4 linked regions of the Homo sapiens genome follow. The protein of the gene in region 1 interacts with the protein of each later gene in a pairwise test. Each region holds a gene or a part of one and is shown in the gene's direction. Other genes may lie near its edges. The genes, in order: MAST1, RNLS, LOXL4 and EXOC6.

Region 1 (7,798 bases):
CTTTCCAAGGGTCTCTTAGGGTTTCTGGGGTGTCCTTAAATGAATTTTCTATGGGCCTTTGGTGAAACTGGGGGAGGCAGAGAGGTTTCTCTGATGTTTTCTGGAGAAACGTTTCTGGGAGTTTGGGCCTGTCTCTTTTTCTTTGAACTCTATTCATTCTAAAAATGGTGTCTAAACACCTGCTATGTTCTTAGGAGCTGGGCGTATGGGGTCAATGACGTCCTGTCTCTACCCTCTGAGTCGAATAGGGCAGGCAGGCCAGAGAATGGGGATCAGTGCAAAGGCTGATGAAGGCTGTGTTGTGAGAGTCAAAGGAGACTGTGAAGACAGACAGCTCCCTTGGGAAAGTGGGGGAACCGCCTATTGACCATGGAATTTAGCTGAGGGCAATAGAGAGCCAGGACAAGGCTCTGGGATAGGGTCTCACATGTTTATCCGCAAGCGGGGAGGACTGAGCGAGGGGACTGCTGGGAGGAAGAAGGAAGGGAGGAGTCCAATAAATGGGGTGTGTGTGTGTCCTTGTAACTGTGCAAAGTGTGCTGGTGTGTGTGTGTGATTGTCACTGTGTGAGGGATTACGTGCCTATGCAATGGCACGAGTCTGCGAATGTGAACGTGTGAACATGTGTCTGTAGGATTGTAAGTGTCTGTGAATATGTGAGAGGAGCAAGTCAGGTATGTCTCCAGGTGAGCGTGCAATCTGTGTGTGGGTGTAAGCGTGTGTGAGTGTGTGGCTGTGAGATAGTAAACACAGAGTCACAGTGTTTACTGTCTCTCTCTCTCTCTCTCTTTTTTTTTTCTTTTCTTGAGACAGAGTCTCGCTCTGTTGCCCAGGCTGGAGTGCAATGGCGGGATCTCGGCTCACTGCAATTTCCGCCTTCTGGGTTCAAGCGATTCTCCTGCCTCAGCTTCCCAAGTAGCTGGGATTACAGGCGCCTGCCACCACGCCCGGCTAATTTTTGTATTTTTAGTAGAGATGGGGTTTCACCAGGTTGGTCATGCTGGTCTCGAACTTCTGACCTCAGGTGATCCACCCGCCTCGGCCTCCCAAAATGCTAGGATTACAGGCATGAGCCACCGCGCCCGTCCAGTTTACTGTCTCACAGCCACACGCTTACACATGCACATGCTAATGTGTGTTGTGCACTCACATGAGCACGCGCCGATGTGTGTCCCTGTGTGTGTGCATCTGCGTGCGAGTGTGAATGAGTGTGTCGCTGTGTGCAAGTTTCAATGTGTGGTAGTGAGCGTGGGTGTCTGGAACGTGCATCTGTGTGAATGTGGAAGTGTGGAGTATGTTTGGGTGAGTCTGTGTGTCCGAGTGTGAGTACTGAGTGGAAGCACATGTGTCTATAGGTGAGTGCATGTCTGGTCTTGCACGCGTGATTGTGCATTAGTGTGTGAGAGTGTGATATTTGGGTCCATGGATGGGATAGTCAATACGTGTGGGTGTCTGTGTTGAGGAGTCATGTGTGAGTGTGTGTCTTCGTGTGTGTGAAGTGTAAATGTGTGCACTGCCAGTATGTGAGCCTGACCTGATAGTCACACCAACATTAATGGATTTGGCTGCAACAGTGACTGTGTCTGTGTGCACGAGAGCATAAGGACACAATATTCTATGTCAGAACATGTTGGGGGGTGGGACGGGTCTTTTTTCTCTGAGAAGATCCAAGGGTCTCCCTCAGAGCTTTCTCATGGAGAGTGTTCACTTGGGGGAAATTTCTAGAATCTCTCTGGAAAGGCTTCACTGGGTGGGGGCTTTTCCAGTTCTCGGTGTCCACTCTGAATGATAAGAGAGGGGACCGTGGGGAGGAGAGTGGAGACGGATCCTCCCTCCAATTCCCGGTGCCTGCCTGGAAGAGTCCCTCTTTATCCCCTTGATTCTGAGGGCCTTGAGGAATCTTAGAGTGCAGATATATTCCCCCAACCCCCACCCTGGCCCTGGCCAGTGGCTTCACCCACACCCTGAGGAGTTGGGGGACCGCTGGGGCCTTGTGGCCTCTGAGCACCTTGGCTGGGTTCCAGGGCGGACGGACGCCGGTGGTCTCTGGCCTCGCTCCCTTCATCTGGCTATGGCACCAACACGCCCAGTTCCACCGTCTCGGTGAGTGTGGAAAGTAGGTGGGTGGGCCGGTGGGTAAGGAATTCAGGGGCCCTCCAGCCTGAAGACCCACACCCAGGCCAGCAGTCCAGGCTGGGCTTGATGACAGTTTAGGGCCAGGCTCAGTGACTCAAGCCTGTAATCCCAGTACTTTGGGAGGCCAAGACAGAAGGATTGCTTGAGCCTAGGAGTTCAAGACCAGTCTGGGCAACATAGGGAGACCCTTGTCCCTACAAAAAATTAAAAATTATCTGGGCGTGGTGGTGCACACCTGTGGTCCCCACTATTTGGGAGGCTGAGACGGGAGGATCGCTGGAGTCTGGGAGGTATAGGCTACAGTTGAGCTGAGATCGCACTGCAGCATTCCAGTCTGGATGACAGAGTGAGACCCTGTCTCAAAAGAAAAAAGCAAAAAAAGACAGTTTGGGTTTCCCCATTCTTCAAAGGTGTTCACTTGTCCATCTATTAAAGAGTTATGGGTCCGCCCCACTCAGAGCCCAATGCTCTGCCCTCAACACATTTCTGGGAGGGTCCTTCCTACTCATTTCTGACTCACTCATTTACAGCTGGTGACATAAGGCTCTGTGAGTTAAGCCATTTACTCTGATATCAGCAGCTGGGCTGGGCCAGGCCACAGCTTTCACCCAGAGCCCACTTGCTCACCCCTTGGAACACCCAAAGTCCCTTCATCTGCTCCCTTTTCTATCCATGCCCATAGTTCCCTTATCCAGCCATTGGCATGATGTTCAGCAGACATTTGTCATGAGATTGTCATGTGGTAGGCGGGTTCTGCAAGCTGGGCCAGAGTGTAAATATTCACGCAGCCCTCATGGGGGAAGACAAGCCAGTAAGAAGGCATTCACAAAATAGAATGGTCAGAACTTTGATGCAAGTAGCACAAGGTGAGGTGATAGGGGAGAGGCATGTGACTCAGATTGGGGGGTTGTCAAGGAAGGCTTCCTGGAGGAGGTGACATTGAAACCAAGACAACAGACCAGCAGGAGTTTGGCAGATGGAAGAGAAGGGAGAAGAGTGTTCCAGGAAGGGGAAGAGCATGTGCAAACCTCTAGAGGCCACAGAACTTGCAGCATTTGAAAAGTTGAAAGTAGCTTTGTGGGGCTGAAAATTTGGGATGCGGGGGAGGAATAGAGATGATGCAGGCAGTGACCTTGATCAGGCTGGAACCTTGTCAGCCAGGGCAGCAAGGGAGATTTTATTCTAAATCCAGTGGGGAAGCCATGGAATGGTTTTATTTCTTTATATTAAATTGTACTAAAATTTCAGTTTGAACCATTTGAAATTGTGATTATGTAGGCTATAGATAATGCACACTAATTAAAAAAATAAAAGAGATGGATGGGGTGGGGAATTTTAACCAGAGGAGTGAGCAATGTGATGTTTAAAAATATCATTCTGGCCGGGCGCGGTGGCTCATGCCTATAATCCTAGCATTTTGGGAGGCTGAAGCGGGTGGATCATTTGAGGTCAGGAGTTCGAGACCAGCCTGGCCAACATGGTGAAACCCTGTCTCTAGTAAAAATACAAAAATGAGCCAGGCGTGGTCATGGATGCCTGTAATCCCAGCTACTCAGGAGGCTGAGGCAGGGAGAATTGCTTGAACCTGAGAACTGGAGGTTGCAGTGAGCCAAGACTGCACCACTGCACTCCAGCCTGGGTGAAAGCTATATGACCAGGCATGGTGGCTCACACCTGTATTCCCAACACTACGGGAGGTTGAGGTGGGAGGATTGCTTGAGCCCAGGAGTTTGAGACCAACCTGAGCAACGTGATGAAACCCTGTTTCTACAAAAAAAAAAAAAAAAAAAAAAATTAGCCAGGTGTGATGGCTTGTGCCTGAAGTCCCAGCTACTCAGGAGGCTGAGATGGAAAGATTGCTCGAGCCCAGGAGGTGGGGGTTGCAGTGAGTGGAGGTCGAGCCACTGCACTCCAGCCTGGGGGAGAGAGAAACACCCTGTCTCGAAATAAAAAAAAATAAAATAAAGCAAGAGGAGAGCCAGGCATAGTGGCTCATGCCTGTGACCCAGCAATTTTTTTTTTTTTTTTTTTTTGAGATGGAGTCTCACTCTGTCGCCCAGGCCTGGAGTGCAATGGCACCGTGCCGGCTCACTGCAACCTCCATCTCCTGGGTTCAAGCAATTCTCCTGCCTCAGCCTCCCGAGTAGCTGGGATTACAGGTGCCCACCACCATGCCTGGCTAATTTTTTTATATTTTTAGTAGAGACGGGGTTTCACCCTGTTGGCCAGGCTGGTCTAGAACTCCTGACCTCAGTTTTTCTGCCCGCCTCAGCCTCCCAAAGTGCTGGGATTACAGGCGTGAGCCACCGAGCCCTGCCCTCAGTCCCAGAACTTTGAGAGGCCAAAGTGGGAGTATTGCTTGAAGCCAGGAGTTGGAAGCCAGCCTGGGCAACATAGAGAGACCCTGTCTCTGCAAAAAAGAATTAGCCAAGCATGGTGTAGTCCCAGCTACACAGAAGGCAGAGGGGGGAAGATTACTTTAGCCCAGGAGTTCAAGGCTTCCGTGAGCCATGATTGTACTACATCCCTCTAGCCTGGGTGACACAAGGAGACCGTGTCTCTCTCTCTTTTTAACTTTAAATAATTTTAATAAATAGAGACACAGTTTCACTATGTTGCCCAGGCTGGTCTCAAACTCCTGGGCTCAAATGATCCTCCCGCCTTCGCCTCCCAAAGTGCTGAGATTACAGGTGTGAGTCACCATATTCAGTGGAGACCCTTCTCTAAAATAATAATGATAATAAAGCAAGAGGAAACAAGATAGAGTAGGGATAGGGAATAATGGGTGTGTATTCAGAGGAGGTCTTCCCGAGGGGTGACATTGAAGCAAAAATTTGAAGGATGAGAAGGAGGGATCCATAGTAGATGTGTTCCAAGCAGAAAGAATAGCTAATGCAAAGGCCCTGAGGAAGGAGCTTGCCTGGCTTGTCCAAGGACCATCAAGGAGGCCACTAGGCTGGGTGCGGTGGCTTGTGCCTGTAATCTCAGCACTTTGGGAGGCAGAGGCAGGTGGATCACCTGATGTCAGGAGTTCAAGACCAGCCTGGCCAACATGGTAAAACACTGTCTCTACTAAAAATACAAAAAATTAGCCAGGCGTGGTGACAGGCACCTGTAATCCCAGCTACTTAGGAGGCTGAGTCAGGAGAATCGCTTGAACGCGGGAGGCGGAGGTTGCAGTGAGCTGAGATCACACTCCAAACTAGGCAACAAGAACGAAACTCCATCTCAAAAAAAAAAAAAAAAAAAAAAAAGAAGGCCACTGTAGCTGGAGCAGAGGAAGTAAGCAGGAGAGTGAGAAAAATCCACGGCAGGGACCCAGGGCAGGATGAGGCAGGACCTTGTATAACTGGGGAAGGACTTGGGTGTTCACCCTGAGTAAGGTGGGAGCCACCAAGGGTTCTGAACAGAGGAGGCTCATGACTTGACCCAAGCTTTAACAGACTCACTGTCTCCACCCCTGTCTGTCCCTGTCCACCTGTCTGTGGCCAAGAGTCCCAGCCAAGATCCTAGGATCCAAGGATCGTAAATCAGGTCCTGATCCTGGCCTTGCCCAGTGACCCCATCGGCTTTGGGAGTCCCAGCTCAGGGTCCTGAGCTGTTGGGGGGCCCATGGTGGCTCTGACCCCGGCCCTGCCCCTGTCCCCAGTCCTCCTGCTCCTCCCAGGAGCGCCTTCACCAGCTGCCCTACCAGCCCACGGTGGACGAGCTCCACTTCCTCTCCAAACACTTCGGGAGCACCGAGAGCATCACAGACGAGGATGGTGGCCGTCGCTCCCCAGCCGTGCGGCCCCGCTCACGGAGCCTCAGGTGGGCAGGCATCCCTCCTCCTTCGTACCAAGCTAGTGGTCTTAGGACTTGTGCTTAGAGAGACCCCTGTCCCCGCGAATAAAAGGGTTACATCTTGGGGCGGGGGCTCTCTGCGGGCTTGGAGGCAGAGGACTCGACAAAATGGGCTTCTCTCCCCGCAGCCCCGGGCGCTCCCCCTCCTCCTACGACAACGAGATCGTGATGATGAATCACGTCTACAAGGAGAGGTTCCCGAAGGTGAGGTGGGACCCGAGGCGGTCACGGGGTGACCAGGCGGCCTGCACTCTCGCTCGCCTTATCCCCGCGCGCCCCCTGGCGGCCTCGGTGCGCAGCGCAGGCTCCTGGCGGCCGCAGCCTTCGGGCACAGCCCCGCGCCCCTCCTCCGTCCCTCCCGCAGGCCACTGCGCAGATGGAGGAGAAGCTGCGCGACTTTACCCGCGCCTACGAACCCGACAGCGTTCTGCCTCTGGCCGATGGCGTGCTCAGCTTCATCCACCACCAGATCATCGAGCTGGCCCGGGACTGCCTGACCAAGTCCCGTGACGGCCTCATCACCACGGTCTACTTCTATGAATTGCAGGAGAACCTGGAGAAGCTCCTTCAAGACGTGAGTGCACGCGGAGGCCGGGCTGATCTCAGGCTCAGCACCGCCAGATTGTGCCCAATGCACCCCTTTCTTCACCCCACATACATTCAGGGAGCTCCTACCACGTTCCAGGCACTGGCGTGGAGCTGAGGACTCAGGGGTGGAAGTGGTCCCTTCCCTAGGTCTGACCGACTGAAGAGGCAGGAATTTCACCTCGCTCATTTCCCTTAGGTCTTTACTCAAATGTCACCTTTTCAGGTGGCTTCTTAGGCGGTCCCCAGTCATTTAAAATATTAAACTCGGCCGGGCTCGGTGGCTCAGGCCTGTAATCCCAGCACTTTGGGAGGCCGAGGGGGGCGGATCACGAGGTCAAGAGATCGAGACCATCCTGGCTAACACGGTGACACCCCGTCTCTACTAAAAACACACACACACACAAAATTAGCCGGGCGTGGTGGCGGACGCCTGTAGTCCCAGCTACTCGGGAGGCTGAGGCAGGAGAATGGCGTAAACCCGGGAGGCGGAGCTTGCAGTGAGCCGAGATTGCGCCGCTGTACTCCAGCCTGGGCGACAGAGCGAGACTCCGTCTCAAAAAATAATAATAGTAAATAAAATAAAATAAAATAAAATATTAAACTTAGCCGGGTGCGGTGGCTCAGGCCTGTAATCCCAGCACTCTGGGAGGCTGAGGCAAGTGGATCACCTGAGGTCAGGAGTTCGAGACCAGCCTGGCCAACATGGCGAAACCCCGTCTCTACTAAAAATACAAAAATTAGCTGGGCGTGGTGGTGGGCGCCTGTAATCCCAACTACTTGGGAGGCAGAGGCGGGAGAATCGCTTGAACCTGGGAGTCGGAGGTTGCGGTGAGCCGAGATCACACCATTGCACTCCAGTCTGAGCAACAAGAGTGAAACTCTGTCTCAAAAATAAATAAATAAATGAAATAAAATAAAATATTAAACTCTACTCACATTTATCACCCACTTTCTCCTCAGTTTCTCCTTGACACTCAGCACCATCCATCATACTGTGTATTTTTGCTTATTTTATTTCATGTCTATCCTTCTCCAATGTCAGCCCCATAGTTGGTGAGGGTGGGGGGGTGGAGTTGTCTGTTCTGTCCACTGCTGTGTCCCTGCTGTTTGGAACAATACCCAGCACACAGTAGGTACTCAATAAATGTTGGGTAAATTGATGCTTGAATGTCCCTTTGCAGTGGCATGCACCTGTAGTCCCAGCTAGCTACTTAGGAGGCTGAGATGGGAG
Region 2 (8,077 bases), on another chromosome or scaffold:
TGGATCTCTTCGTGGTTTTAATTTGCATTTCTTTAATTACAAATGAGTTTATGCATTGTTTTTGTTTTATTAGCCAGCTCTTTGCAGTTTTCTTCTGTGAATGTCTTATTCATAACCTTTGCCCATTTTCTATTAGGATTTTCATTTGTTCCTTATATATTTTATGAGCGTTTTGAAAATGGACCTTTTAAAAAAGAAAATAGAATTTTTCTTGGATAATTGATGATTATTTTTAAAGGAGAATGAAGCTTCTTGATAAATCATAATTCAGTTAAGTACCCAAGTTGAGATAACTGAGAAAGGATATAGGCTAAGAATTTTTTTATAAGCCATTTCCAGCATAATTACTGTTTTGATCTTTATCATCAAATATTACTTATTGAGAACCCCAAGAATCCTTGACACTGGGCATCAGAGAGGTCAGTAAGATTGAATAAACAACATGAGAACATAATAAATACCATTCTGGCTTAGACCATTTCTCCATTCGAGATTCAGTATATAGATGGTATGTTAGACTACTCCAGAGAAACAGAACCAATAGGGTATGTGTGTGTATGTATGTGTGCATGCATGTGTATATGTGAGTATGGATAAAGAGAGAGATTTATTATAAGGAATTGGCTCACATGATTATGTTGGTTGGTAAGTCCCAAGATCTGCAGGGTGATCCAGCAAGGTAGACACCCAGGAAAGCTGGTGGTATACTTCTAGTCCAAAGGCTGGCAGGCTCAAGACTCAGGAAGAGCCAATGTTTCAGTTCTACTCTGAAGGCTGGAAAAAAGCTGATGAGCCAGTTCAAAGGCTTTCAGGCAGGAAGAATTCTCCTTTATGTGAAGGAGGATCAATGCGTTTGTCCTATGTAGGCCTTCAACTGATTGGATGAGGCCTACCCACATTAGGGAGGGCAATCTGCATTACTTGATCTACTGATAATAAATGTTAATCTCTTCTAAAAACGTGCTCATAGAAACACCCAGAATAGTGTTTGACCAAATATGTAGGCATCCTATGGCCAAGTCAAGTTGACACATAAAATTGACCATCACAGATGGTGACACTATTGGACGTTTTGTAGAATGTTACTATCAGCTTCATATAGTGTGGCCATATCACTTTAAAAAATCTCATTTCCACCATGATTTTCCCCTGACCCAGGTTGGATGAGTATACCTATTGAAATCATCAGGTACTTACTAACTGATATGCGTGCATGCATGCATGTGCAGGAGCTTAGAAAATGATATCCCAAAATGGAGCCCTCAGAAGTAGCTCTCTCTGACCTTCTCCTGCCCTCCTATCTCTGGCCTTGCATTCATCCCTGAGGCTAGCCCTAGAAAATAGAATCTCTTTTCCCAAGGCAGGTCGTAGAAATAAGAACCCCTTTTCCCCCCAAACCAGCCATAAAACCTAAAACTATCACTCTAGCTTTCCCCTGCCTTCCTTTGTAAAAACTGGCCATAAAGAAATTATCTGACCTACCGTGTTTGATTGTAGCTCACAACAGTTCCAGAGAGGGTCATGACCTATAACCATAAAGAAAGAATGCTGCACAGAGAGGACAAGAAGAATCTAGACAGACAGGCCTTGGTGGGTTTTACCAGTTTGTTAGCCATAGATATAACCCTTTGTCCAATCATATTGCTGCAGAGCTGTCCATACTTTGTTGAATCTAAGCATAAAAATGGACTCCTGTATCTTTGGGTCTTCAGTCTGAAGGTTTCAGTGTCATGCAAAACTATGATTAAATAAATTTGTATGCTTTTTCTCATATTAGTATGCCTTTTGTCAGTTGATTTTTACTGAAATTTCACCCCTACACATGCATATATACATACATACACATATCCTTTTGTTCAATAAACATTCATTGAATACTTACCATAATGCCAAACATTGTTCTAGGTACTAATGATACAAGAACCAATGTCCTTGCCTTCATGGAGTTGATGTCCTGGCAGAGAAACATCTTTGAATACATTGCATCTATCTCCTTATTTTGTTATGTGTTTGGGGGAATACATACGTTTTAACTTCCAATTTTGCTTTTTAAGCTTTTCAGAGAAGAGATTATTTTTAATTCCTTGTACCTCACTCAGAAACTAATAGTACCTCCTACATAGTAGGTAGAGTGATATAAATGTTAAAAATTTATTTTATATCAAGTTCATGGTCTATTTAACTTGAGTTTATATAAATTTTTCTTTGTTTATTTTAATGCTATTTAATGTTATTCTTGTAATACTTCGAGATTCTCCTCTACCCCGATCTATTATCTATAGGATTTGTTGGACCCTATCTATAATATTTTTAATTTTATAATTATATCCCTTTTAAACATTCTTTAAGTCCCTTTAACCTTTCTATTCTATAAATGGTCCACAAAAACATTTTGGTTTTTCCACACTATAAGCTAAGACAGTCCCTGAAATCAGAATGACCTGGATTCCAGTTAATGTCCTACCATCCCTTTCTGTTCATGTAATATTAGGAAAGTTTAAAATCTGTACCTCAGTTCTTTCATTGAAAAAAATGAGCGTAATGAAATGCAAAAATGAGGGTACTTACTACAGAATATTGTAATGGAAGTTCTTGCTACAAAGTGTTGTGAGGAATGAAAGATATAATGCACTCAAATTCAAGCAAGTAGTAAGCCAGTCACATAGTAATCTCTTGAAAAATGTTAGTTTAAAAAATATTGTACTTGAATGAAGCTGACCTTCATATATTCCTTACTTTAAGAAATCAAATTGCCAACTATTTTCAAAAATACTCTATATTTTGGAATCTAGTTGAGTTTAAAACCCCACAATCTGATGGACCAACCAGTGGTCATTCAGATTGGGACCAGACTCCCAGGGCAATTATTTGTCTGGGATATGCCTAATCAGGCATGCTTTAGAATAGGTTCAAACCTTTAAAGCCAATATTTAACTAGACCAATTTCCCAGAACAAATAGTAAAAGGTAAAGGAAATAGATGCTTTCTTCTTGACCTTATGTTCTATTTTAATTTATTGTCCGATGTGTTCACATTAACCTCATTGCAGAGAAAGCTGTATTTATTGGCATCAATTTCACTGACTGCCTGCCTTCTCCATTAATACAATCTTCTTGAGTGAGTGAAACATGATTTTCTTTTGTTCTTTTTTTATACTAGTTGTCATTATGCTGGGGTGAGAATTGACAATAGCAAAAGTGATTCTAGCTATCAGTTATTAAGTGCTGACTATTTATCTAATACTACCTGAGGTACTTTACGTATGTAGTTTCTAATTCTCACAGTAAATTTTCAAGGGAGTTAATCATCATCCCTATTTGTTAATGCGAAGAATGAGACTCAGGTACTTTGTCTAAGGTGGCTTGGCTAGTTGGTAACAGAACTGAAGTGCCTTTGCAATTAATCATGTTGTTTTTTTCTATTAAGTCTCTCATGGAGGGCAATGAGAGGTGCTCATACTCTCCAATTTAACATCTATTTTGTAGAGCCTTCTCTTTCCTTATTGATTATTTTCCTATAGTATGAAGATTGTACCCATCCCACCTGGTGCTACGTGTCAGTAGACACATGGTTCAATAGAACAACCTCATAGTTCCCTGTGCCCCTAGTTTCCCTCTTTCATCAGTTAATTCCTGACATAGGGGGAAGTGGATATTGAAGAGTAATACCACCTTAGTTCTTTATGCAACCTGGGAAATTGGTCACCTGATGGTTCCTGCCTATGACATGGAAAATGATGGGCCAGGTCCTTTTGCTTTTGAATAAGGTCCCATGTTACTAAATTATTCAAAAAAGATGAATTTAGCTTCCAGGACACAGAGTGAGCAGCTTTTATTTAGCTTGTCCTACCAATAGGGAGGGCTGTTGCTGCATTTATTTGTTTTTATTTTATCATCTACCTAAAAAGGACATTGGCTAGCGATCCAGAAAGTCAACATTTGCAAAGTAACCTGTCAAAATTGACAAGATCAATTTATTAGAAAAAAATGGTTTAGGTGGCAGATGCCATTAGCTAGGATGGCTTCTGTATTGTAATATTTACTTTTATTATTCTCTCTCTTTTTACTTTTGTGCCTATTTTCTTTCTAAAATTGATAGAGGGGAAGTGAGTCTGGGTGGTTCTGTCTCAAAATTTCTCCCAGCAGGTGATCCTGGCACTCATCCGTAACGATGTCCTTTTTAGAGAAGCTAGAGGATGGCATGAAAACCAGGTTAAGCATTCTTCTATTTACTTCAAGCTGTGTAGTCAGTTAGAGATGGTTCACATCACTTCAGGTCCCACCTGAGCAGTTCTGACTGCTGCTCACTAAAACCTATTTGTGGGAAATCATAGGAGAAACATAAACTTGGATTTTCTCCTTAAAATGGAGGAAGGCCAGGGATAAAATTGAATAAATATATAACAGAAACACATTTGCCTTTGTAAAATGTTTAAACCTTCTTAGACTTCTGATATCTTTATAGCTATCTGAAGATCATTTTATTCTAATTAAATATTATGTGCTGGGGAAACAAAAGTCAATAAGAGACATGATCCTGGCCTCTGTTAATGTAGAGTATAGTGGGAAGAAAAGACATTAAACTAATTATACATACAAAGAAAAGATGCATGATAAATGTTAAGAAGAAAGAGTGAGAGCATTATGAGAGAACTTACAATAAAAGGACCTAGCCCAGTAGGTTTTAGAGGAGTGATGGGGGAGATGTGTTAGGGAAAGCATCCCTGAGGAACTGATATTTTCATGGGTACCTGAAAGGTGGGCAAGAGGGAATTAGGCTGAGAGCTGAATGATGAGAGTTCAATGCAGTGGACACATCAAATTGGAACTGTTTTGAAGCAGTAGGAGGAGGTTAGTGCATTCAAGGAATAAAAGATCATTATGACTGGACGGTAGTGAGTGAGGGAGAAAATGGTAAAAGATGATGCTCAAGACTAAGGCAGGGCCAGGTTATACAGGGCTTTGTAAGCAATGTTAAAGATTTTATACTCTAAGTGCGATGGGAAGCCATTGAAGGGTTTTATGCAAGAGAGGGACATGGTCAAATTTACTAAGCTCAGACATAACTCTTGAGACTATTTATTTATCCATTTTAAAATTGGGTTTTTCAGAGCTTATAGATTTAAACACATAGTCTTTGTGAAAGTTATTAATTACTTTCACAAGGAAATGCCACTTTCCCAAAAACTTTGCTCCAAGCAGTTGGAAAGGAAGCCTTTCTGGTTAATAAGAGAGGCTATACCATTTCTCCTACCTCTTGATAAATGCTGCTTTTTGGGTGGTTTTGCCAGTGGTGTTTGATTTGGGCGTGTCCACCTACCCCAGTGGTTCTCATACTTTAGCGCGCATCATGACAAGACTAAGGGAGCTTGTTAAACATGGATTGCGAGGCTCAATTCCCAGAGTTTCTTATTCAGTATGGTCGGGTTGGGGCCCAGGAATGTGCATTTTCTAGTACATAGGTGCTGCTGGTCTGGGGTTCATACTTAGAGAACCACTGACATATATATATATACACACACACACACACATATACATATACACCTTGGTGTATATATATGTGTATATATATATATATATATACACACACATATATATATAGTATATATATATAATATGTGTGTGTGTGTGTGTGTGTATATATATATATATATATATATATATATATATATACTTTGCAGAACACCTTGTGGCCATTGGGATACATTTTCAAGGCGTTCATCTGGGGCATGAAGAATTTTCTAGGACTGTGAACTTAAGTCCCCTTAAACACACACTCATACCACCAACAATAACAGCATATTGTTCTCTTCAAAGGAATATTATGAGAAAACGTAGAATCAGTTAACTTAGCTGAGGTCTGGGACAGGGCCATGGACTAAGTGAGGCAAGTAGGGTGAGGCATCCTAAATAAATAAAAACAGAGTGAAGCAGAGCTGCCCTTGTTGGAATAAAGGAGATGGTGGATATGTGTTGAAAGTGCAAATTATTTGCACCTTCCCCAAGCAGGGGCCTTAGAAAAGCCCTCAGGCAAGATGGAGTACTGTTTACAAGCCCCTTGCTCTAATCTTTGAACAGAATGATGCACACTGTCTTGAACAGAGATTGATCTCTTGGGCTAGCTAGAACTATGTTTCTTCTAACATTTACATTTGATTTTTTAAAAACTGGAGTGCTTACTAGGGTGTAGCATTATTTAAGGGTCAATGAAAGAGATGAAAGTGTATGAGATCTGAAGACCCGACATGAAGGAGCCTTGAGTATTATTACATAGATAAGATACAACTAAAGCATGCAGATATTTTGAATCAATGTCAAAATTAGTACTAAAGGCAGTGATGGTTGAAGAATATCATAGAGAGGAAGGATCACACTGAGCTGGAGTGGCTACAGAAAGGAAGCTTTGGGATGAACTTTAGCTGGATTTTTAGTGACTAGGAACGTGAGATTTCCCAGGTAAAGATGAACAGGATCTTTCAGTGTGCTTTTTTCCTCCCTCATTCCATCTTCATTTCTTTCTTTTTCTATACACAAAGCTGAATAAAAGTAGATTTGCTTGTAAATCAAAATTTTTTGAAAACTGGAAGGTGAGTACTAGTTTACTAAGGAGACTTAATGACCCAATTGTACTTTCTTTCAGTTTATGGTTCATAATTCATTCTTTTTATTTGTTATGTTGCCTAGGCTGGAGGGTAGTGGTGCGATTTCAGCTCACTGCAACCTCTGCCTCCCGAGTTCAAGCGATTCTCGTGTCTTAGCCTGCTTAGTAGCTGGGATTGCAGGCATGCACTACCATACCCAGCTAGTTTTTGTATTTTTAGTAGAGATGGGGTTTCACCATGTTGGCCAGGCTGGTCTCAAACTCCTGACCTCAAGTGATCCACCCACTTCAGCCTCCCAAAGTGCTGGGATTACAGGTGTGAGCCACCGTGCCTGGCCTCATAATTCATTATTTTAAATAAATACTTAACTAATAAATTCTATGCTATGTATACTATATGCTATACATAGAAATAAAACAGGTATAATTTGTAGCTCATGGGCCTTACAGATTAAAAGGGAAGACAATATTAAAGAAATAATTATTAAAATATCCTTGTGTTAAGTGCTAAGAAGGAAAATGTTATGGGAGGGTACTCTAGAGTATGTTTCTAAATTCTGATTCTTCTTAATGAAGACAATTGATCTATTGATGAGAACTTGCATTTCCCTTACAGAGAACCTTTTTCAGGTCCTTTAATGGGAAATATTAATTCCTTTAATAGAGAATATTGCTCTTCTTATTTCATTGCTAACACACATGTTTACTGAAGTGTATACTTGTTCTGCAAAAATGATGAGCTTTAGAGTCAGATGGTTATAGTTTTAAATCATGGCATGCTATTTCTCAATCTATTTCCTTGTCTGTGAGATAAATTAGTATAATGTGTACCAAGCAGCTGGCATATAGTAGCTGCTTAATGAAAAGTAGCTATAGTTATTATTTTTATTTTTATCACTAATTGTAGGAGTAGTTTTTGATTCAGAGCAGGCACTGATAGGGAAGTCCAAGGATGCCAGGTAGGGATGAATTCCCACTAAATTAGAAAGAAAGTAAAGGAAGAGAGCTGGAGGACAGTAGAAGACAGTCTTGGCCATTTTGTTCACTTGAATGGATTCAGTTTGTGACTACTCACATCCCCTTTATTCATATATGCAATTCTGATAATGGGGACATGATTTTGCTTTTGGAACAGGTGCAGAAGTCTACTTCAGACATCGTGTGACACAGATCAACCTAAGAGATGACAAATGGGAAGTATCCAAACAAACAGGCTCCCCTGAGCAGTTTGATCTTATTGTTCTCACAATGCCAGTTCCTGAGATTCTGCAGCTTCAAGGTGACATCACCACCTGTGAGTCTGCTTTTGCCATTTACCTGCCTCAGGGAATGGGATTTCTTTTGACAAAGCATGAATTTGGTTTAACTCTCTTCGCAAAGGACAAGTGATAGACTCTATTGATTTGCCTGTCTTAAAAACTGATACTTACGGCCGTCGTCATGATATTAATCTAGGCCAAGGTGAAACCCATAGAAT
Region 3 (8,077 bases), on another chromosome or scaffold:
GAGCTGCAGAGGTGAGAATGGGAAGGCAGCCCCTGCACAGCCTCAGGGAGTGGAGAGGGGAGCATCTAGGCTCTGCAGTGTGGGTGGAGGGAAAAGGGGCAAATCTAGAGAAGGCTGCAAAGAGGAGTACCAAGGACTTGCAGTTGAGATCGGACGTGGCCTCCATTTCCTTCTTTGTACAGAGAGGAGGTGGGACCAATCTAGACCAACGGTTCTATCGTCGCTGTCACAGTAGCTGTTAATAATAGTTCATTGTTGGCCGATGTAGTGGCTCACGCTGGTAATCCCGTCACTTTGGGAGGCCAAGGCGGGTGGATCACCTGAGGTCAGGAGTTCAAGAACTGATGTGGTGAAACCCTGTCTCTACTAAAAATACAGATAAATTAGCTGGGCATGTTGGCGCATGCCTGTAATCCCAGCTACTTGGGAGGCTAAGGCAAGATAATCACTTGAACCCTGGAGGCGGAGGTTGCAGTGAGTCGAGTTTGTGCCATTGCACTCCAGCCTGGGTGACAAGAGCAAAAATCTGTCTCAAAAATAATAATAATAATAATAATAATAATAATAATAATAATAATAATAGTTCATTGTTACTGAAGGCTTGCTCTTCTAAGGATTTAATGTTTCTTCACTTAATCTTTACAAAAATCCTATGAGGTAGTTACTATTATTATCCCCACTTTACAGAGGGAGACACTGAGGCAGGGAGAAACTAAATCGCTGGCCCAAGATCACTTCCAAATGAACTGGTGGAGGCAGGATTCGAACCCCAGCAGTCTGACCGCCCAGCCTGTGCTCTCAAGCACTGTGCTGCCACCTCCCATCCATGCAACCACAGATATGAATGAGTGCCACCTACACACCTGACACTATTTTGGGAACTGGGGACACAACACATCCCCACTCCCATGGAGCTTCATTCCCAGAACTTGTTTAGTGCACTTTTAGGAGCCCACTCCACCCAGCCCTGCTGGCCAAGGCCGTTGAGAGGGAGTAGGGCAGATGCCATCCATGGAAGTGAGAGTGGCAGGGGCCTGTGAGAGCCTCCCCACTCAAGCGGATGAGCTGCATGATTCCCCAAGAGGAGCCATGGCCGTGGAAGAGGCAGGTCTCATCAGAACGAGCTTTCTTAGCCCATCTTCTCCATCCCCTGTTCCAGGTCGGCCTTAGCTTCCATCGGCAGCAGAGCCTTGGGGTGGAGGAGCTTCAGCTTCGGTGGCTCCAGAGGTCTCTGACAGCTCTAACCAGCTGAGACTCTCTCCTCTATGCCCTTCTCCACCTGCTGGTCCCGGGACCAAGGCTGCTGTGTGAGGGGGAGAGGACCTGCCCCCAGCCTCATCCCCTCTCTAAGGACCCAAAGAACGTCTGATTACAGCCTCCTGGAGACAGGGGCCCTCTCTGTTTACCGCCTGAAACCCTCCCCTGGCCCCTCGCTTCCTACAGGATGAAGGCAAACCCTCTGTGTAGTACACATGGCCCTTGATCATTGGCCCCAGCTCGTCCCTCCATCTCTTTCCCCTCCAAACCCCCACACTGTGGTCTGGGGGTAAGAGAAGGGCACTTCCTGCTCTTGCACAAACTCACCTCTTTCCCTCTTTCCTAATCCTCTTCTCTGTATCTCGAATGCCCCTTTTCTCACCCAGGAGAATCTTATTTGCCCAATAAGGCTCAGGTTAAGTGTCCCTTCTTTGAAAGGCTTCCCTAATTCTTCTTGCTTGAGCTTCATGAAGGTAGGGAGGGTGTTCGATGTCTTAATTTCTGTGTCCCAGCACCTGGCCTGAAGCAAGTATTCCAAAAATGTGTATTGAATCTACATGAATCATACGCCTAGATGGATGTGAGGCTATCACAGGGTATCCAAGCTGCAGGAGGGATCCAGATGATATGTGGTTCCATCTCCTCACTTTAGAAATAAAGAGTCAGGGCCGGGCACAGTGGCTCACACCTGTAATCCCAGCACTTTGGGAGGCCAAGGCGGATGGATCACGAGGTCAGGAGTTCAAGACCAGTGTGGCCAAGATGGTGAAACCCCGTCTCTACTACAGATACAAAAAAATTAGCTGGGCGTGGTGGTGGGCGCCTGTAATCCCAGCTACTCAGGAGGATGAGGCAGAGAATTGCTTAAACCTGGGAGGCGGAGGTTGCAGTGAGCTGAGATTGCAGCACTGCAGTCCAGCCTGGGCGACAGAGAGAGACTCTGTCTCGAAAAAAAAAAAAAAAAGAAAGAAAGAAAGAAAAAAGAAAGAAAGAGTCAGGACCTAGAGAGTTGAAGAGACTTGCCCAAGCCATGCAGCCAATGAGTGGTGGAGTCCTTGATGCCCATCTAATAGCCCTTTCTGCTCCAGCCTTCCATGTGCCTTCTAGGTGAAGGCGGCACTTCACACATTTGATTAGGGTGCTAGGAACATCAGAAGGTGGTGGCAGTGTCCCTGGGGTAGATAGTCTTGACCTGAGGGCACCCTGGGGGCATCCCCGTGACTCAAATGGTGGACCACCTCGTCTGCCTACACATAAGATTTTAGGTGTATAAGAGCTGCTGTTTATTGTGTACTCACCAATGCTAGGACTTTGCTAAGCACTTTCCATACGGTGTTTTATTTAACACTCAACAACACCGTGAGATGGAGATTACTATCCCCATTTTACAGATGAGGAGACTGAGACTCAGTGAGGTTAAGTTTAAACTTCCTCAAGGTCATGGCGAATGTGGTGGATTTGAACCAAATCAGCTAACCTGGCCCAGACTCAATTAATGCCACTGTGTGTGTGTGTGCGCGTGCACACACACACACATTTGAGGGGGGTTTTCTTTCCTTTGTCTTGCCAGGAGCTGCCAAATTGCTGCAGAGGTCTGAGATCTGGGTAGAGGTGGTGATCACTGTCATGTTTACTCATTCCTCAGGTATCTTGGCCTCAGCTGTCCTTGAAGTCACCATGGCGTGGTCCCCACCAGCCACCCTCTTTCTGTTCCTGCTGCTGCTAGGCCAGCCCCCTCCCAGCAGGCCACAGTCACTGGGCACCACTAAGCTCCGGCTGGTGGGCCCAGAGAGCAAGCCAGAGGAGGGCCGCCTGGAGGTGCTGCACCAGGGCCAGTGGGGCACCGTGTGTGATGACAACTTTGCTATCCAGGAGGCCACAGTGGCTTGCCGCCAGCTGGGCTTCGAAGCTGCCTTGACCTGGGCCCACAGTGCCAAGTACGGCCAAGGGGAGGGTGAGTGACTGGTGCCACCTAGTGGGATGGCAAGGAGATGGTAACAGTCTTCTTGGGCTGGGCTCACTGACACCCACCCATCCTTTAATACCCTGCTCATGTGACCTCCTCCACACGGCATTTCCTGAGTGCCTCAGCTGCACATGGCCCCTACTCCCACCCTCCCATTCTCTCTTGTAATAAGGCCACCGCCGTCACCACCACTAAACTCTAAGTTCCTTGAACATAGCAATTGGCACACAGTGGGTGCTTAGAGAATGTTGAATGAAAAAATGGGCAAACAGGTAGGTCTGATTCCTAGAGCTACCCGGCATTTTCCAAAAACAGATTCTCTAAGAGCCAGCACCCAAAGGAGGTAGCAGGCAGGGTTATAAATACTTATTCCCCAGGAGACCCAAACTTCCTCCTCCCTGCCACTTTCTCCCAGGGTTTGGAAGAGGTGACTTGGTAAGTGTGGGGTCCTATGCAGGAGGCAGAGCCTGTGACCTGCCTCTCTGTGCCATCTTTGAGCATCACCTCCACTCCACAGGACCCATCTGGCTGGACAATGTGCGCTGTGTGGGCACAGAGAGCTCCTTGGACCAGTGCGGGTCTAATGGCTGGGGAGTCAGTGACTGCAGTCACTCAGAAGACGTAGGGGTGATATGCCACCCCCGGCGCCATCGTGGCTACCTTTCTGAAACTGTCTCCAATGCCCTTGGGCCCCAGGTGAGGAGGCTGTTCAGGCTCTGGTCTGAGCCAAGGGCTGGGTCAGAGAACAGAGAGCCTCCCAGAAGACGGGCCTAGAGGATAAGCGAGGGGAAAGGGTGCAGTCTGCACTGAGCATCGTCCCCAGGCCGCCGACTCCTGAGTGTGCCCTGCAGCAGGTGCATAAATAGAGGGCCCCAGCCTGAGGCAAGGCAGGCCAGAGGACCAGAGCTGACCCCACTGGGAATCGCAGAAGCTGCTCCCGTAAGGGAGACAGCATTGGGTAAGGGGCTCCCTCATCCATGAGGCCTGGCCACAATTGCTGCCTCTTCCCAGCACAAACAACCCTGAGCTAAAAACAGCCCAAGCCAAACAACAGGAGCGGGCAGGGCAGGGCTCTGCTGCCAGGCAGCCTCCAGCCTCAGGACAGCTGGCCATGGCCACTGAATGCAGCGTGTTGTGATGGGGACTCTGTACTGGTCTAAGTCATCCCAGGGCTAGGGTTGGGGGTTCTTGTGGGCCATAGGATCCTGCTGTGGTCTCAAGCAGCTGGTCTATGCCCATCTCAGCTCTCTCAGGGTGGTACAGAGAAGGCCCTTCCATGCCCAGCAAAAGCCTCCCAAACTCCAAGGGCTCCCATCCTGATCCCAGCGGGGGCCAGATCTGCCTAGTTCTCTCCAATTTGACAAATTCGAGGAACTGAGGGAAAGGGCTTAGACAAGCTGAGGTTCTGCCTTGCACTTACTCTGTGGCCTTTGATAATGCCTCCCCTTCTCTGGGCCTCAGTTTCCTGGCCTGTTCAATGACCGGGCTGGGTGGGATGGTCTCGAAAAGCTCCAAGCCCCAGCCTTTCTGCATGAAGATCTGCAGCAGGCTCCACTGGAGGAGCAGGAGCCCCGAGGCCCACAGGTGACTGTGCACCCCGCAGGGCCGGCGGCTGGAGGAGGTGCGGCTCAAGCCCATCCTTGCCAGTGCCAAGCAGCATAGCCCAGTGACCGAGGGAGCCGTGGAGGTGAAGTATGAGGGCCACTGGCGGCAGGTGTGTGACCAGGGCTGGACCATGAACAACAGCAGGGTGGTGTGCGGGATGCTGGGCTTCCCCAGCGAGGTGCCTGTCGACAGCCACTACTACAGGTAGGAGGGCGGCTGGCGTAGGCCCCACAGGAGGCAGGGTTGTGGGGCAGGGACTGAGTGTGTGTTCATGTGCGTGCATGTGATGTAGGGTGTGTGCATGAGTCTGAGTGTGGACTCATGTGAGGGGCAAGTAAGTATGCACACAGGCGAGTGTGTGATGTGTGTGGCATGTGGGACCTCGCAGAGTTCAGTGAGTACTGACTGGCAGTGGTGTTGTCTGTGGCAGGACATCCAGCAGGTGTTGGGATTGGGGGAGAGAAAACAGGCCCTACTGAGGAATGTGCCCAGATTTCTTGCTTCACGGGTGCCTCAGAATAATAAACAGGAAAGTGAATAAGGAGGACCTTCAGGATCCTGGGAAATACCTAGAAACAGTCAGAAAACAAACACTGCACTCTCGAATTATGTAAACAGAATTAACTAGGTACAGAACGCCCCCCCACCCCCCGCCCCCGGTGAAAACAGTTGAACATAAAACCGCGTGTCCTTGGTTAAAACACTAGACTTTCCTGCAGATACTTGCAGTGACACCCACGTGTAGAGTTTAGACAAACTGTTCTGGCCTCAGCTCAGCCAGTGACTGGCGTTAGGGCTTTGGGGAGGGCCTCTGAGCCTCCATCCTCAATTCCACTGCGAATATCCCAACGCTTCCCTCCTGAATTTCCTCAGCTCTGATCAAGCCAGGCTGTGACTGGGTTGTGTGTAAGTGAGGCGTGGGGTGGGGCACCTGGAGAGAGGAGACATAAAAATATTCTGTCAGAAACAAGGCGGAACTGTCACAACTGATTGCATCAACCAGTAAACGACAGCCACAGTCATGGTTCTGCCAGATCCGTGTCAGGGAGGACTTGTGTGTTTCCCATCAAGTGAGAAGTCTCCCGTAGTACGTCTGAGTCATCTGCCACCCCAATCAGTTTGATCCTGCTTCCCTAAAGGGTTAGAAGGCCCTTGTTGCAGTGACTTAGAGGAACCCCGTTCTGAGGAAACAGGGGTGCTGGTCAGCCTCTGGCTCCATCCTTGGGGATCCTGGGATGCAGCCTGACTCCCCCTGCCTGGTAATTGCACACCTGGGTCTCGCTGACTTGCCTGCCACCCATGAGGAGGGCAGGCCTGATGGTAGCCTGGGTGTCTCTGGGCGGGCCGCCCCCACCAGCAAGGCCTTCACCTCCCACCTGTCCCCAGAGGGCCCCTTCTCTTGGGCCCTCCCTAAATGCTCCCCTTCCTCTGGACTTCGGAGAGGGCAAGCCTGATCCACCTGCCCCCACTCTAGGACTGGCCGAGGGACCTTGCTTGCCTTCCTTGTAAAATGGTTATTTGTGAGGTGGCCACCCCGTCAGGGCTGCTGTGAAGCTCAGCATTGAAATCAGATTAGTGAATAAGTTTACAAAATGTAAAGTCCTGTGCAAACTTAAGGACAACTATGAGGAACCAGGTGGCAGGGGGTGGGACTTCCACACCCCTTCCACCTCCTATCTGTTTTCTCCCATAACAGGAAAGTCTGGGATCTGAAGATGAGGGACCCTAAGTCTAGGTGAGGAGCAGCACCCTAGAGGGAGGAGGCAAAGGGGTGTGGCATGAAGGGCCTCTATCCCATCCCCTACCCTCCCCTTCCCTCCTTTCTACCTTGGCCTCCCTTAGTCCTGAAGCTCTTCCCTCAGCCCTTCCTCCACCCTCAGTCTCCCTTGTCCTCTAGGCTGAAGAGCCTGACGAATAAGAACTCCTTCTGGATCCACCAGGTCACCTGCCTGGGGACAGAGCCCCACATGGCCAACTGCCAGGTGCAGGTGGCTCCAGCCCGGGGCAAGCTGCGGCCAGCCTGCCCAGGTGGCATGCACGCTGTGGTCAGCTGTGTGGCAGGGCCTCACTTCCGCCCACCGAAGACAAAGCCACAACGCAAAGGGTCCTGGGCAGAGGTGAGCCCTGGGCATCCTGCACTCACACCACAGCTTGGAGGCACGGGCGGGACACTGCCTGGTGGGGGGTGCGGGGAGGTCCAGGACACGCAGGAGAGAGGAACCAGACTGGGAGGAGGAGAGTGAATCACAGAACTGTAGAACCTTGGAATGTATTTAAAAGGGATCATTTATAGCCCTACCATAAATGGAAAGCTGACATCACCCGCCTTGAATAGAAGGTGACCGTAAAAACAGTAATTAAATCCTAACTACATTCCACTGAGGGCTGGTACTGATCCTGAGCCTGCTCCTGAGCCTGCTCCTTTGTTTTAAAGAGGAGATGAGCAAGTGCTTATGAGGTGGTAGAGACGCCTCAGTGCCAAACTGAGATGCCCTCATGAGGTGGTACAGATGCCGTGAGGTGGTACAGATGCCTCAGCGCCACACTGAGATGGCCTCGTGAGGTGGTACAGACACCTTAGTGCCACACTGAGATGGCCTCGTGAGGTGGTACAGATACCTTAGTGCCACACTGAGATAGCCTCGTGAGGTGGTACAGACACCTTAGTGCCACACTGAGATGGCCTTGTGAGGTGGTACAGATGCCTTAGCGCCACACTTGAGACGGCATCCTTGATGAGGCTGTGGGGGTGATTGGTCATTGAAGAAATGGAGATCAAGAAAAACAGCTTATTCAGGGTGACAGCTATGGGAAGTCAGAAGCAGGACTGGAACTCCCCATCCTTGGCTCTGGCCACCGCCATGGAACTTGAAGGAGCCCCGTTGGGGATCCCGCTGTGGGGGCTCAGCCCCTGCTGGTGCCTCCTCCTCAGCCGTCCCTGAAGCAGGTTTCTCCCAGCAGGAGCCGAGGGTGCGCCTGCGCTCCGGGGCCCAGGTGGGCGAGGGCCGGGTGGAAGTGCTCATGAACCGCCAGTGGGGCACGGTCTGTGACCACAGGTGGAACCTCATCTCTGCCAGTGTCGTGTGTCGTCAGCTGGGCTTTGGCTCTGCTCGGGAGGCCCTCTTTGGGGCCCGGCTGGGCCAAGGTGAGTGAGACAGCCTGGGAGGGGTTAGAAGGCCTGGATATGCCACTGGTCCATGTCTTGAAGGCCCTGGGGTGACAGGGCCAGGACAGAAAGTTATCCCCCTC
Region 4 (6,548 bases), on another chromosome or scaffold:
CACTTCACTATATTCACTTGCCATAGTTTGCCTGCAAGCCAACATTGGCCTTTTTCAGAGAGCTATCAGCATAAGCTAAAGTAGCCTGTACTTATAAAGCCTAAGAAAAAAGCTCCCAAGGAAACTTGGAATAATGGTCTGGCATCATCATTTAATCAGTTATTTCCTGAATATCTACTGAGTGGTTAGACTGTGCTAGACACACTTTATGAGCTTGCCTGCCCAGTTTTGAAGTTTGTTTCTATTTACTTGTTCCAGCAGTACAATGCATTTGAAAAATCCTTACACACATGAAAATGATAAATGAGAATATGAGATCAACATGCTTGCTGGCTCCATCTTTGCTCTCTGCCCATGTCCATGTGTAGTCTTTGGGACACAAACACTGAAATGTCTCAGCCATTGGATCTTCAGTCATTGGATTCATAGACTGAGCGGAATGAGCAGGCAGTCACCAGCTTCTATATAAGTTAATGGTTTCTATTTTATTCTATATTAAAGTGATAGTAGCTTCCTCATGTGTTACTGTAGTTTAAATTACTAGGATTCTGTGTGAATAGCTTTTCTTTATAATTTCTTCCATGTTAACATCAAAAGATTACTGCTTTATTCCTATCTTACAATGTAAGCTCCTTGAGGAAAGAGATTTTGTCTTGTTCCAATGCTGTATCTCTGGTACCTAGCACAGTATCTAGCACGTGATAGGTGGGGAGTCAATATATGTTGAATAAATAAATGAATCTTATGTAGATCATTGGCTTTTTTGTCTGCTTTGGCAATTAATTCCTTAACCATTAATTTGCAAATTCGTGCAGATTTCTACAGATACCTGTAAATTAACTGTGTACAATATGTATTTCTATAAATATTTATACAAAGATTAATGTCAATATGAAAGCATATAGATTTGTCTACATATGGGCAGGTAGGTTTAATTTTGTGGTTCCTGTAATTTCTGCGGATTTGCACATAAGAGATTTGCATATGAGTATCTGACCATATGTGAACATTGTAAGCATAGTGTTTCTTTATCCAGGACAGTCTGGTCTTGTGCTGTAAAAGAATCAATTCTGTATTCACAGTTGGAGTTGGTGCGGGTTTTTCATTCATTAAGTCGGCTCCTCCTTTCCCACTTGGGGGTAAATCAGCCTAGAGAAAAAGAGCCTTAAGAGGTTGCTTTCTGCTGACACTGTGCATTGCACATGCACAGTTGTGCAAATACACACATATACCTGAAAGAAGAATCCTTGAAAATGAGGCTTCTGTTGACAACTCTGTGAGGGGTGTTCATTATTGAAATTTATTTTAATATATAAATATATAAACCTTATTTATAACTATAGTATTAACACATATCCATTGTAGAGTATTACAAAAATAAAGAAAATAACAGTTAACCTTAATCCCACCACATAAATGACAATCATTCTTTTTTAAAAATTACTATTTTAGAGGTGAAGTCTCATTATGTTGCCCAGGGTGGACTCTTAACTCCTGGGCTCAAGTGATCCTCCCGCCTCAGTCTCCAGAGTAGCTGGGACTACAGGAACACACCACCATGCCCAGCTTATAACCGGCATCCTTAACGTTTTTGCAAATTTTCTTCCAGTCTTTTTGGATGGGTTTTTATGTAACTTAAGTAGCAACATTTATCATAAACATTATCCCAAGTTATTTAAAATTCTTTGTAAACATTAATTTTAATAACCACATGATAGTCATCATACAGATAGACCTCACTACTTAACCAGTCTCTTAATATTGAGATTTAGGCTATTTTCAGTTTTTGATAACACAAATAACATTTTTGAGATTAATATCTTTGTGCATAAATTTTTTTCTGTTTCTCGAAGTTGCATTCCAAGAAGTAGGATTGCTGAATCAAAGGGAATGGCCACTTTTATAAGGTTCTTAAACACATTGCAGAATCACATTCCGGAGACGTTATACTAATTTACACTCTTACCATCTGAGTGTATGAAAGTAACTTTTCCTCTTTGTGAAAGGAGGGAAAAATGTGGCCAAACAACAGTTAAAAATTACACAGAACTTTAAATAAGTTCCCTTTTCTTTTTCAGACAGTATATTCTTTAACATTGTCTCAGTATAGTTTCTATCCTAGTGTTTCAACTGTTGGTATGGCCCAGAATGGTATCTTGTCCGAAAGAAAATAGAGTGGCTTTCCATAGTTAATATTTTCATTATAGAATTTTCTGCCTGTTGCAAGAAAATCTCTATTAATACCTGTAAATTGGATGGGGAAATAGTCAAGCAAGTTCTTTACCTTCATCAAGAAAAGCTAGTTTCTGGTGACCTTTCTTTATGAGGTTTTAATCACCCCAGAGTTTTATCCCTCTCAGAGTCAGTGGTCGGCTCTTGTATCCCATGAGTAAATGCAAATGTTTCCTCCATTTGAAAGCAAAACCAGTAAGACCCCTTACTTATAAAGTGAGTTAAAACAAAAAGAAAGAATATAAAAACTAAAGGAAGGTAGTAAGTAAAGCATTTAGCTTTCTGAAACAATTCAAATGGGGATAGGAAGTTGGTTTTAAATGGCTTAAAGGGGATTAGGGTTTTAAAGTTGGATAAAGAGTTTGGTGCTTAGGTTTAGGCATGGCATTGCTTTTAAAAGATTACTTCCATATTTGACAATGATTCTAACTGGAGATTATAAAGTAAATAGTCAATTTTAAGACACCACGGGAAACAAGAGGGTTTCTTTTTTGTTGTTGTTTGTTTATACAAAATGGTAGCCTAGAGTTAACAGGCTGAATCCTGAAGCCCTCATTTCATAATACTACAGAGGATCTATCACCAGAGAGAATCTAGCAGAGGTTGTTTAATGCACTTAATTGAGATTATCTGAGCTTTTGGTTTAAATTACTTTGGAAAAAGTCTTAGGTGCAAACAGCGTCCTTGAAAGGTAAACATACTTACCTCTAAGAAAAAAAGGTTCAATTTAAGTTCTTTAAAATTCTTCATACAGGTTAGTAGCACCAACCTTTATTAATTAAATCTGGGTACTGACTAATGCATAAAGATAAAATTTCTATACATCAGTACAAGGGTTAATATATATTATATTAACATTGTTTTCATTATTTTACAATTATTTGAAAACATGAAGTATTTTACTAGAAAACAACCCCTGGCATTTTTAGTAATTTCAAAGTAAAAAGATCTATTTTGATTGTAAAGTACAGTTAATGAAGTTTTAAAAATGAATTTCCGTATTCTGTTCCATCTAAGAAGCAAGCCATATTAAAATGGACCAAGGATAGCATATAATTTAAGTATTAACTGGGTAAATAATCAAAAGTTGATTTAACATTTCCCCCATCTTTCGCAGCTCCTTGACCTGTTTATGGTTTGGGATTGGTCTACTTACCTAGCTGATTATGGGCAGCCAGCTTCTAAGTACCTTCGGGTGAATCCAAACACAGCCCTTACTCTTTTGGAGAAGTGAGTATATTCTGAAACTTTTTTGTATAACATTTTAGCACCTTTTGATTCAGTGATAAACTGAAGAACTAGAGATTTCTGTCAAAAAAGAAAAGTCTAGATGGAGCTTAAAAGCTCACTCTAGTTTAATGACCAAAAAATAAGCTTTTCTTTCTTGCCCTTCAGAGTTGGTGTAGTTTCATAAGCAACTGCTGTTTATATTGATGTGAACAAAACATCTTTCCTTTTGTATCCTGAATTGCAAGCTTAATTGACCTTAGAAATATGTTTACTGGGGATGTGACAATTGGAGCTTTCTTTAAAAAAAAAAGTCTATAACTCAGGAAAGAAGGTATTTTGTCAAATGTGACCAGGAATTGGAATGTTTGCCACCAGTGTTACCTAAATCTTAGCATTATGGACTTGGATTCTTTGCAGGTAGAGAAATATGTGATTTGAAAAAAAAAATACAGTAAAAACTGAGGTAATAGGATTTACTGATGCATCTTGTCCAACTAAACATAAATTTAGGTGTTAACTTTTCCCTCTCATTATGTGACAGACTTTTTCTTTACTCAATCATATTTCATTTAAAATGTCACTATTGGGAGACTCTCTGAATCTGCTGTGATTCTGGGGGCTGCTGGATAAGAAAAATAAAAAAGTATCACTATTAAAATTTTCAATTTTAAATTAAAATTGTTATTATTTTCCTATATTTCAAAATATTTGTGGTGTATTTGATTTGAAAGGACAAGAGGAAGTGTTTAAAATAAATGTAAATTTATTTTACAATGCCATGAAATGCAACTGAGGCAAAAACATCGCTATTTTACATTTTCTAATGTTATTTTCCTTTCACCTTATCTTGCTATGAATATGATTAGCAGAGTCTATACAGGGTATGTATTTTAGCATACTTTGTGGAATAATATTAGAAAATAGTATGATAGTAGTAAACCTAGCATATTTTAGATGTACATACTAATGCAAAAATACCACTTAACATAGAATGTAAAATAAAGCTTCTAATTTTTTGCATGGTTACTATATCTGTATGTTTATTTAGTATCTACTTTCTTTGAACTATATTTTTCAAGCATAGGATTAGTGTGGGATAATTCAGAGCATGCCAAGATATTTTACTTGTGACAGCTTAGCTTTTAATTTTCTTTTACCAAGCTTCTTCATTCACATATGTTTCTAGGATGAAGGATACTAGCAAAAAGAACAATATATTTGCTCAGTTCAGGAAGAATGATCGAGACAAACAGAAGTTGATAGAGACAGTCGTGAAACAGCTGAGAAGTTTGGTGAATGGTATGTCCCAGCACATGTAGACCTCACATGGCTTGCACTCAGTGACACCAAATCCATGATTCAATGTTGATCTTGAGCAAGTATTGGTCATGATACAGTAATTTGTTTACAGAATCCAAAAATACAATAGAGAAGATACATGAGGGCTTAAACAAGAAATAGTAATAAATATCATTTGTATGGATTTTTAAATAATCGAATACTATTTTATATATGGAAAAAAATGACCATTTTTTCACTTTTAGGGGAAAATGCAAAAGTGTAATACATAAATTGTCACAAATTATACATGAAATTGATTACAAATACATTTGAAAAACATATGCCTCTACTCATAAGTATTTTTTTCTATTTAGACTTGAATGATAATCTGTTTTTTGATCAGTATATGGCTTTGGAATTCAATCATGTCTGATATGGTAGTATTTCACTACCATTTTCTGACTTTTAGCTTTTATTTTCACCTCAATGTGATTTAAGCAGACCAAAATTTCTAATTCTGCTAATTCTGAAGGGGAAATAGACAAATCTTAAAAGCTGCCTGAAATCAAACTTGATTTAACTCAGTAAGAATGTGAATTATTTGTTCTACTTGGGTGGTTTAATTTAATCGTTCTGAATATGAACAAAAGGTTTTGGATTTTCTAAAGATGCAGTGTTGTTTCTGTTCATCAGGGTTAATATTTCTAACTATATTGCTTGTAGGTGACCCCATTCTGGATTTGTTTGGTTTGGTTTGGTTCCAGTTAAAAGAGAGGACAGGAACTAAATGGGGCTAACCACTTCAGGTGCAGCTTGTGCGAGGGTAGATGGTTCCTGCACACAGAAGTTACCACAGGGGTCAGGTTACTTTCTTCAAATAGCAGATTTCAGTACTTTATCCTCATTGTGGAAACAAGCCAAACCAAATGAACTCTGGAAAACCTAAAACAAATGTACATTTTCCTTTGTGTATGTTTCCGTGGTCCAAATGGCAATATAAATCCAGTCTTTATTCTCCCTTTGTTGTATTTATGCTGAATCTTCCCTTTGCCTTTTCAGGATTTAGGCCTGTAAGAAACTATGCCTGATTCTGTAAAATAAGTGTAAAGAATTATATGTACATCTCTGGATTTTGTGATGAAATATTAAAAATATTGAGCAAGTTGTTGAAAATGCATTACTATTTTGTCTATTCAGAGCTTACTGATTTAAAACAAGTGCTTCCTGGAGAAAAGGCATATTATTTCCTAGTTACTGGAATGGGAGTGGCACCAAAACAGTATATATACATACACACACACACACACACACATATATATACATATGCGCACTTGTTCTCTCGATCATCTCTTAATCCAAAGTATTTAATGTTTTTAAAAATATTACATGAAAAGCATGGTAGTTCTTCAGGCACGGTGAAATCTGGAGGAGAGGAGCGGTGAACAGCTAGCTCTCTTTGAAGACTGGAATGGGGCTGCCCTTCGCGCCTTACCCAGCCTTCCAGCGTACTTGGGGTGTCTTCCCTGCTTTGGCTGAGACGTCCCGGGATTCAGAGAGATACTGCCTTTGCACTGCCTGGAGGAGACCACTGTGGGACCTCTTTACTCTTACCAATAATATAAACACCCTGCACCCCTCCACACACACCCCAGGTTGCACTGTAGGGACAAGAACGAGTGAGTCCTGAGGCATTTGGAACCCTTGAATGGGACGCACAAAGCCCAAAACGCAACAATGTAGATTGACAAGAGTCGTCGGGCAAACTCGGGGGAGGGAGGGAAGGATGTGCAGGGAAGGATGAATTC

The links.
Region 2: the proteins of MAST1 (region 1) and RNLS interact in a two-hybrid assay, tested with the Homo sapiens proteins (one study listed by BioGRID and IntAct).
Region 3: the proteins of MAST1 (region 1) and LOXL4 interact in a two-hybrid assay, tested with the Homo sapiens proteins (one study listed by BioGRID and IntAct).
Region 4: the proteins of MAST1 (region 1) and EXOC6 interact in a two-hybrid assay, tested with the Homo sapiens proteins (one study listed by BioGRID and IntAct).

Annotation. Positions count from the first base shown.
Region 1 is NC_000019.10:12,841,505-12,849,302, forward strand, and holds part of MAST1 (microtubule-associated serine/threonine-protein kinase 1), read left to right. Parts: intron 1-2,024; coding exon 2,025-2,103; intron 2,104-5,785; coding exon 5,786-5,946; intron 5,947-6,107; coding exon 6,108-6,183; intron 6,184-6,343; coding exon 6,344-6,553; intron 6,554-7,798. UniProt on the Homo sapiens protein: Microtubule-associated protein essential for correct brain development. Appears to link the dystrophin/utrophin network with microtubule filaments via the syntrophins. Phosphorylation of DMD or UTRN may modulate their affinities for associated proteins.
Region 2 is NC_000010.11:88,572,720-88,580,796, reverse strand, and holds part of RNLS (renalase isoform 1 precursor), read left to right. Parts: intron 1-7,735; coding exon 7,736-7,894; intron 7,895-8,077. UniProt on the Homo sapiens protein: Catalyzes the oxidation of the less abundant 1,2-dihydro-beta-NAD(P) and 1,6-dihydro-beta-NAD(P) to form beta-NAD(P)(+). The enzyme hormone is secreted by the kidney, and circulates in blood and modulates cardiac function and systemic blood pressure.
Region 3 is NC_000010.11:98,257,877-98,265,953, reverse strand, and holds part of LOXL4 (lysyl oxidase homolog 4 precursor), read left to right. Parts: intron 1-577; exon of another isoform or gene 578-1,227; intron 1,228-2,902; 5' UTR 2,903-2,934; coding exon 2,935-3,211; intron 3,212-3,740; coding exon 3,741-3,919; intron 3,920-4,826; coding exon 4,827-5,032; intron 5,033-6,524; coding exon 6,525-6,563; intron 6,564-6,725; coding exon 6,726-6,945; intron 6,946-7,786; coding exon of another isoform or gene 7,787-7,789; coding exon 7,790-7,973; intron 7,974-8,077. UniProt on the Homo sapiens protein: Catalyzes the oxidative deamination of lysine and hydroxylysine residues in collagen and elastin, resulting in the formation of covalent cross-linkages, and the stabilization of collagen and elastin fibers.
Region 4 is NC_000010.11:93,053,575-93,060,122, forward strand, and holds the end of EXOC6 (exocyst complex component 6), read left to right. Parts: intron 1-3,349; coding exon 3,350-3,462; intron 3,463-4,648; coding exon 4,649-4,781; 3' UTR 4,782-5,916; downstream 5,917-6,548. UniProt on the Homo sapiens protein: Component of the exocyst complex involved in the docking of exocytic vesicles with fusion sites on the plasma membrane.